2 linked regions of the Homo sapiens genome follow. The protein of the gene in region 1 purifies or fractionates together with the protein of each later gene. This does not show direct contact. Each region holds a gene or a part of one and is shown in the gene's direction. Other genes may lie near its edges. The genes, in order: FAM13A and PPP2R3B.

Region 1 (4,547 bases):
CAACAGAAGCCAAAATTGACAAATGGGATCTAATTAAACTAAAGAGCTTTTGCACAGCAAAAGAAACTATCATCAGAGTGAACAAGCAGCCTACAGAATGGGAGAAAATATTTGCAAACTATGCATCTGACAAAGGTCTCATATCCAGAATCCATAAGGAACTTAAACAAATTTACAGGAAAAAGACAAACTACCCCATCAAAAAGTGGGCAAAGGATATGAACAGACACTTCTCAAAAGAAGACATTTATGTAGCCAACAAACCTATGAAGAAAAGCTCACCATCACTGATCATCAGAGAAATGCAAATCAAAACCACAATGAGATACTATCTCGAGCCAGTTAGAATGGCAATTATTGAGAAGTCAGGAAACAACAGATGCTAGAGAGGATGTGGAGAAATAGGAACGCTTTTACACTGTCCGTGGGAATGTAATTAGTTCAACCATTGTGGAAGACAGTATGGAGATTCCTCAAGGATCTAGAACCAGAAATACCATTTGACCCAGCAGTCCCATTACTGGGTATATACCCAAAGGAGTATAAATCATTCTGCTATAAAGACACATACACACATATGTTTATCGCAGCACTGTTTACAATAGCAAAGACATGGAACCCACTCAAATGCCCATCAATGATAGACTGGATAAAGAAAATGTGGTACATATACACCATGGAATACTATGCAGCCATAATAAGGAACAAGATCATGTCTTTTGCATGGACATGTATGAAGCTAGAAGCCGTCATCCTCAGCAAACTACCACAGGAACAGAAAACCAGACACCACATGTTCTCACTCATAAGTGGGAGTTGAACATTGAGAACACATGGACACAAAGGGGAAACAACACACATCAGGGCCTGTTGGGAGGTTGGGGGTGAGGGGAGAGAACTTAGAGGATGGGTCAATAGGTACAGCAAAAGAAAAAAGAAAAACAAATTGACAGAAAAAATGGTAACAAAAATAAAAATAGGATAGTTTCCTTTTGGCTTACCTGAAGTGGCTATTTTAGCTATTAGTTCAAATATTTGTAAATTTTAAAATCTATCAAATTTTCTAGTGACAGCATGTGGAAGAGAAAGTTATTGAAAAGTCAGTTAGCTAATTTTTCAGACTGCAAATCACATATGTAGAATTATGGTTGTCTAGAAGTATGTTGTTTATGTTTATCATCAGTATATTTTTATAAGACAACTCATACATAATTAGAAGTAGTAACGGCTACATAAAATAGAGCATTTTCATTTAAAACAATTCTGATGGGGTAGCATGGAAGGAAGAAAATTTTGGTAGAATTTAGCTGGTTTCTAAGGAAGAGTAGAAGAGAAAACTGCCTCAGAAAAAATGAATAATGTGCCTGCAGTTTTAAACCTGAGTCTGAATACGTACATTTTGCTTAGAGCTGTGTGGAATCTGGGAAGCAAGTCTGTGTTTTCACTTTATGCACTGTTGGTTCTATTAATGAAAGCCACCAGGTGACTGGCAGTTTTCGGAGTCAAAGAAGCCTGTGTGTAGGATCTAGGGAGTCAGGTTTGAAAAAAAGATGTCAGCGACTTAAGACCCGTGTCACGTGACTCCCTCTACTTGCCAGCACTGAGGCTGTGGATCAAATTTCAACTCCAGGCAGTCCTTCCAGCCATGTGGGTTCAGCGGAAAGAGAAGCAAAACCACTCTTCCTAAAATGTTAGAAGCTGCTCTTCGCTTACCTTGGGGCCTTTGCATTGGGAGCTGTTTTTCACATCAAAGAATATGTGCTGAATGGAATTTTAGTATTTTGCTGTCGTTTTAATATTTTCGTCTGGTCTTCCTCAGTTCTTCCAGACGCTTTCTGAGAGAATGGGGGCAGGAGCTCTAGCCATCTGTGTAAGTATAGGCCTTCTTCTGTCTTCTGTGTTTACTGCCAGTTTTTAGGAGAGGGCCTTGCCTTCCTTGTTTTGATGAGATGTTTGTGTAACTTATTTTTCCTTCCCAGGAGGTGGGGAAAGATTTGTTACTTAAATTCCTATCTACTTAAATGGGTATTAGGCAGGATTTGGGATGGCATTCAGCATATTTGTGCACTTTAGTTTCCAAAAAAGGTGAAAGATGCATGCTGATTTATTCCGTTAAGTCAACTTGATTTAAAGTAGAGCACTTTCAAGCATTTTAGACTTTCTTGTCCCTGAATAGTTAAACATGAATGCTTCATTATAGCTATTAGAGAAATCTTGTGGCTAGCTTGAGGAGGAATTGAAGTAACCATTAATTTATTACTTTTGAGTATGTGTGTGACATTTTTCTGTTTTATATTTCTATTTTCGTTTAGTAATTCTGGAGTTTCTGTTTCAGCATGATTGCTGAAAGTGATGGTGGAGAAGCTCAGTTGATAAATGTTTGTGTATCCTTAAACTGTAGAAATGAATGGTTGTTATAACACAGTAGCATTAATAAATAACACTGAAATAAAATCCTTGGGAAAATGTGCATATTTCTGGAGTTTTAGAATTTTTAGAATTTATGAATTTCTAAATTATTCTGCTGGTGCTTGTACAAAACCTTTTGTAATAATCAAAAATTGTCAATTATATAATTTGCAGAATGCTGTAATTTAAATTTTGATTGTACTATATAGAAAATGCATATATCTGTATGAGAATTACACATATTTATGTTTCAAGTTGCTATTGTATTCCATAGGGACATTTTATTTTCTAGAATGTATTAAATGAGAAATATCTTCTTCCTTATTATCACCTTAACTGCTCACTTAAAAAATCACACTCAGGCCAGATCCTCTTTTTTTGTGTGTGTTTCAGAAAGAGCTGCAATTTGCTGTAGCTTCTGATGGCATTCTGAAGTGTTTAGAAATATCTGAGCAATTTTTGACACACAGACACCAAATGGTCACCAAATGGTCACCAAATGGTAGACCAGCCCTATAGATTAAGTTTTCTTAGTGAAACTGCAGGATGACCTTGTTTCCAGGCTCAAAACTTTTCAGCACCATGTATGTCACTCTGTCTTCCTTTTAACTCTGAGGCTTAGTAGCATCCAGGTATCCATGTGGTTATTCTTTTTTTATCACCCCAAAGAGTTTCCTTCAAAATCTGATTTATCTATGTGTAAAATACTGACTTTTACTTTACTGCAGAGGTGGCCCTTCTATTTTTCTAGCTTTATAAAAGAAACAATACAGAACTGAAAATGTGTAGAATGAGGCAGCAGATAGGTCATGAAGATTGGTAGTCATCTCTGATTGTCTGATTAGATCTTTACTTCTTTCCCTTGACCTGCAATATATTGATCTCTACCTTGACTGGAATGCACACTGACTCATGTATAAAACTTTATATTTTCCCTTAATTTATATCCAAAGCATGTATAAAATTTCAGTTAAAGTTGACATAAAAATCACACAGTGTAAGAGATTATTCACTCTGGTAGATGAGTAATTCTCAATCATTTCTACCCTTCTCCTTAAGGTTGGCCTTTGATTGTGCTGTCTTGGTTTTACTGTAGGAGGAAATACATTTTCAACAGTTGTACCATAGCATATCTGGAAAAAGATAGCTTTTGGAGAACAACAAAAAAAATTTTAAACATCGTGACAAAAAAGGGAGAACTAAGTCACACATTAATACATTCAATGAGCTGATACACTACTTTTTACTTTGTGTAGGAGTGAAGAGAAAGCTTTTCCTCTGCCCTTTCTGCAATTTTATTGAAACAATTGGCAATAGATTAATAGGAGAAAAAGAGTTACAAATTTATTAATATGTATATGGATATGAGAGCCCCTCAAATATGAGATTCAAAGAAGGGCCAGGTGGTTGAAGCTTAAATGCCTTCTTTTTGGGGAAGAGAGAAGTAGGGAGCTGCAGGTAATTTTAGAGAGGTAGTAAATAATTTTTAAAGTGAATGAATGGGTTCAAAGAGCATGGCCTGGGACAGCGTTTCCCTGAGCTATGGTGAGGTGGTGGAAAGGTGAGGGGTGGAATGAAGGTTGTGTTTTTATGCAGATAAAGTCTCCCAGCCAATCTCTTGGAGCTGTCCTCAGAAGAATAGATGAAAAGTCAGTGTGGATATGGTGACAGCTTTTAGTCTCTTTTCTGATGGTTAATTTTTCATGGTTATTTGATGAGATTCTCAGGAAGTAGATCTTAAGACAATTGCATTTCTTTTGGAAAGAAGCTTCCTTAATCAGATAAGGAAATTCCAGAGAGAGTCACTCTCAGTGCTTTAGGAAAGAAAAAGAGAGACTGAGGGAGGGCAGGAGAGTGGAAAGGCAGAGAGAGACCTTGGTTCTGAGGCTTATTTCTGAGACATTTTAATTAAAAATACCCAGCATGCCAAAGCACCATATTTTGGGGTATAGCTTTTTGAACCCCAACATTTAGGACTTACATACTTATACATATATGTAGCAACTACTGAAATATCCTGCTGCTGAAGACATTAATACTTCAGACAGTATAATGAGTACTAGATATCTGTAGTACGTACGTGTGTGTGTGTGTGTGTGTCTGTGTGTATCTTTGTGTGTCTGTATGTGTGTGTGGAC
Region 2 (3,811 bases), on another chromosome or scaffold:
CTGTGGATTTCATGCTGGACTTGGCTCTGCTCGACGGGAAAGCGTGGTGGGCCCCTAGGATGGGCCGTGCAGGGGCATCGGGGCCCCGGGGCTCTCCCAGACCCAGGCGTCCTCTCAGCTTTTCGGTCCCCACCGCATCCAGTCTCGGCTCCGGGGGGTGGTGACGTCGGGGCCGAGGCACGGTGCGGGCTGCCCATCAACCGCATTCCTTTCCAGCCCTTTCTACCAAGATGATAGACAGGATCTTCTCAGGAGCAGTCACACGGTACGTACGGCTCAGGCGCCTGACGGCAGCCATTGCCCCTGCGAGGACCCCGGTCCCTCTCCTCATCGTTGCCTGACGTGAGCTTTTTGTGCCCCGACAGCGAGTGGTTGTCACCCCAGGCCCTGGCGAGGGGGGCACGTGTCTCTGTCACGTGAATCCCTAGTGGGGGGGGGTGGCACAAGACTGTCACGCGAAGTCTGAGGAAGGGGGTGGCCCAGGCCCCAGGTCGGGGGTTCTTGTCGGGCGCTGGGCCTGAGTGAGCAGTAACGAAGGTGCACTCCTGACCCTGCCTGGATCTGGGGAAAACCCTCTGGCCACGGGGCCTCCACCTCCTCCCCGGAGAGGCAGGAGGAGGGGCAGGAGGGGGGCAGGAGGAGGGCCGGGCCCGGGGGGCTCCCCTCACCGAGGCGCGTGGACAGGGGCTCCGTTCCTGTGAAGCTCTCCCTGACATGCATCTTCGTCTCTCCATCCTGGCTTTCGATCTAGAGGCAGAAAAGTGCAGAAGGAAGGGAAGATCAGCTATGCCGACTTTGTCTGGTTTTTGATCTCTGAGGAAGACAAAAAAACACCGACCAGGTGGGTTCCTGCTGCGGCATGCGTTTGTCCCAGTGGAGGGGCCGGGAGCCGCCCATGTGACATGTGTCCCCAGGCGGATGCCTGCACGCCTGGTGGGGGCTGCACGGCACAGGGGGACATGTGCACGCCCGGTGGGGGCTGCACGGCACAGGGGGACATGTGCACGCCTGGTGGGGGCTGCACGGCACAGGGGGACGCGTGCGCGCCCGGTGGGGGCGGCAGGGGGCAGGGGATGCCTGCACGCCCGGTGGGGGCTGCAAGGCACAGCGGGGACGCGTGCACCCCCGGTGGGGGCTGCCTCAGGGGCTGCAGGTCACGGGCTGGGAGGGCCCAGGGCAGGGGCTGACAGAGCTCGCCGTGCCGCAGCATCGAGTACTGGTTCCGCTGCATGGACCTGGACGGGGACGGCGCCCTGTCCATGTTCGAGCTCGAGTACTTCTACGAGGAGCAGTGCCGAAGGCTGGACAGCATGGCCATCGAGGCCCTGCCCTTCCAGGACTGCCTCTGCCAGATGCTGGACCTGGTCAAGCCGAGGACTGAAGGTGATGCCCCGTGAGGGCATGGCCCAGGGTGAGGGGACGGACGGGCGAGAGGACGGCCCAGGGTGAGGGGACGGACGGGCGAGAGGACGGCCCAGGGAGAGGGGACGGATGACAGCCCAGGGAGAGGGGACGGACGGGAGGGAGGACGGCCCAGGGAGAGGGGACGGACGGGAGGGAGGACGGCCCAGGGTGAGGGGACGGACGGGAGGGGGGACGGCCCAGGGTGAGGGGACGGACGGGAGGGGGGACGGCCCAGGGTGAGGGGACGGACGGGAGGGGGGACGGCCCAGGGTGAGGGGACAGACGGGAGGGGGGACGGACCAGGGTGAGGGGACGTCCCTGTGAGGCGCTGTCCTACTGAGTTTGTGAGGAGGGCCAGCACCACAGGTGCCTAGTCTCACAGTGCAAGAACCTCCTATTCGGGGCGTCGACACCCCCCGAGGGGTGACCTAGAGAACCTAGGGCCGGAGCTCACCGGGGACGTTGGCACTGGGCTGAGGGAGCAGTTGCCACGTTCGTGCTGATGCCGCACAAGGCGGTCCTCCCCTCACCCCCCCCCCCCCCGTCTCCTCCCCTCTCACCCCGCCCCCCCCGTCTCCTCCCTTCTCACCCCCCCCGGCTCCTCCCCCCCTCTCGCCCCCCCCATCTCCTCCCCTCTCACCCCCCCCATCTCCTCCCCTCTCACCCCCCCATCTCCTCCCCTCTCACCCCCCCCATCTCCTCCCCTCTCACCCCCCCCATCTCCTCCCCTCTCACCCCCCCCATCTCCTCCCCTCTCACCCCCCCGGCTCCTCCCCTCTCACCCCCCCGGCTCCTCCCCTCTCACCCCCCCGGCTCCTCCCCTCTCACCCCCCCCAGCTCCTCCCCTCTCACCCCCCCCCGGCTCCTCCCCTCTCACCCCCCCCCGGCTCCTCCCCTCTCACCCCCCCCCGGCTCCTCCCCTCTCACCCCCTCCGGCTCCTCCCTTCTCACCCCCCCCGGCTCCTCCCCTCTCACCCCCCCCGGCTCCTCCCCTCTCACCCCCCCCGGCTCCTCCCCTCTCACCCCCCCCCCGGCTCCTCCCCTCTCACCCCCCCCCGGCTCCTCCCCTCTCACCCCCCCCCGGCTCCTCCCCTCTCACCCCCCCGGCTCCTCCCCTCTCACCCCCCCGGCTCCTCCCCTCTCATCCCCCCCCGGCTCCTCCCCTCTCACCCCCCCCGGCTCCTCCCCTCTCACCCCCCCCCGGCTCCTCCCCTCTCACCCCCCCCGGCTCCTCCCCTCTCACCCCCCCGGCTCCTCCCCTCTCACCCCCCCCCGGCTCCTCCCCTCACCCCTGTTCCCCCCACACCATCTCCCCAGCTCCTCCCACCCACCCCCGTGCCCTCTAAGGCAAAGGGGAGCCCCACCGTCCACGCCGCCTGGCTTCCTTCTGCATCTCAGAATCCAGCTCTGGGACTTTCACTTTGGAAATGGCTCTGAGGCCCGGGCACCGCCCTGCAGCCCTGCCCCCCCCGGCCATGGGGCGCCTCCTGCTGCTCAGTGTCCCCGGGACACCCTCTGGCCTCTGCCTGCACGGGGAGCTCCGTTCTCTGTAATTTCAGATCCAGCAGCGCCCCTGCTGGCCGCGCCTCCCTGCGCTAGTCCCAGTCCACGCATCCTTGGGGCACCGGTGGCCCCTAGTCGCCTCCGCATCACGGCCTCCCACGCCTCAGTCCCCACCCAGAACCAGGACACTCGCGTGTCCGCCTTTCACGTCAAACACGTGGCGTGAGAGCCCGGAGCTTCGTGCCGCGTCCTTAAGCACGTGTGACAGGACGCGCGCACCCCACACCCAGGCCCCGAAGGTGAGACCGGGCTCACGCGCCTTGGACGCACTCCCCTCCCCGCAGGGAAGATCACGCTGCAGGACCTGAAGCGCTGCAAGCTGGCTAACGTCTTCTTCGACACCTTCTTCAACATCGAGAAGTACCTCGACCACGAGCAGAAAGAGCAGATCTCCCTGCTCAGGGTGAGTGCGGCGGGCACGCGGGCCGGGCCGCGCCACGCCGTGTACGTAACCCGTGTGCTTCCTCCAGGACGGTGACAGCGGCGGCCCCGAGCTCTCGGACTGGGAGAAGTACGCGGCCGAGGAGTACGACATCCTGGTGGCCGAGGAGACTGCGGGAGAGCCCTGGGAGGACGGGTGAGTGGGGAGGACGGGTGAGTGGGGGGACGGGTCAGTGGGAGGACGGGTGAGTGGGGAGGACGGGTGAGTGGGAGGACGGGTGTGTGTGCAGCCGGGGGATGCGGGGTCAGTCAGGTGGGGTGCGCGGACACAGAGGGGCGGGGTGAGACCTGACACGGGGCCGGTGAGGTAAGGACAGCCGATGACAGGGCCGGGCCTCGGTGCAGTCTGCCCGTCATTCCCCGCGTGGGGTTCTGTGATCCTGGGCGCGAGGCTTCGCACATC

What was found.
Region 2: the proteins of FAM13A (region 1) and PPP2R3B purify together in Homo sapiens (affinity purification with mass spectrometry; one large-scale study listed by BioGRID and IntAct). This does not show direct contact.

What each region holds. Positions count from the first base shown.
Region 1 is NC_000004.12:89,054,261-89,058,807, reverse strand, and holds the start of FAM13A (protein FAM13A), read left to right. Parts: upstream 1-1,622; 5' UTR 1,623-1,843; coding exon 1,844-1,870; intron 1,871-4,547.
Region 2 is NC_000023.11:338,337-342,147, reverse strand, and holds part of PPP2R3B (serine/threonine-protein phosphatase 2A regulatory subunit B'' subunit beta), read left to right. Parts: intron 1-216; coding exon 217-265; intron 266-751; coding exon 752-841; intron 842-1,207; coding exon 1,208-1,383; intron 1,384-3,251; coding exon 3,252-3,370; intron 3,371-3,437; coding exon 3,438-3,544; intron 3,545-3,811. UniProt on the Homo sapiens protein: The B regulatory subunit might modulate substrate selectivity and catalytic activity, and might also direct the localization of the catalytic enzyme to a particular subcellular compartment.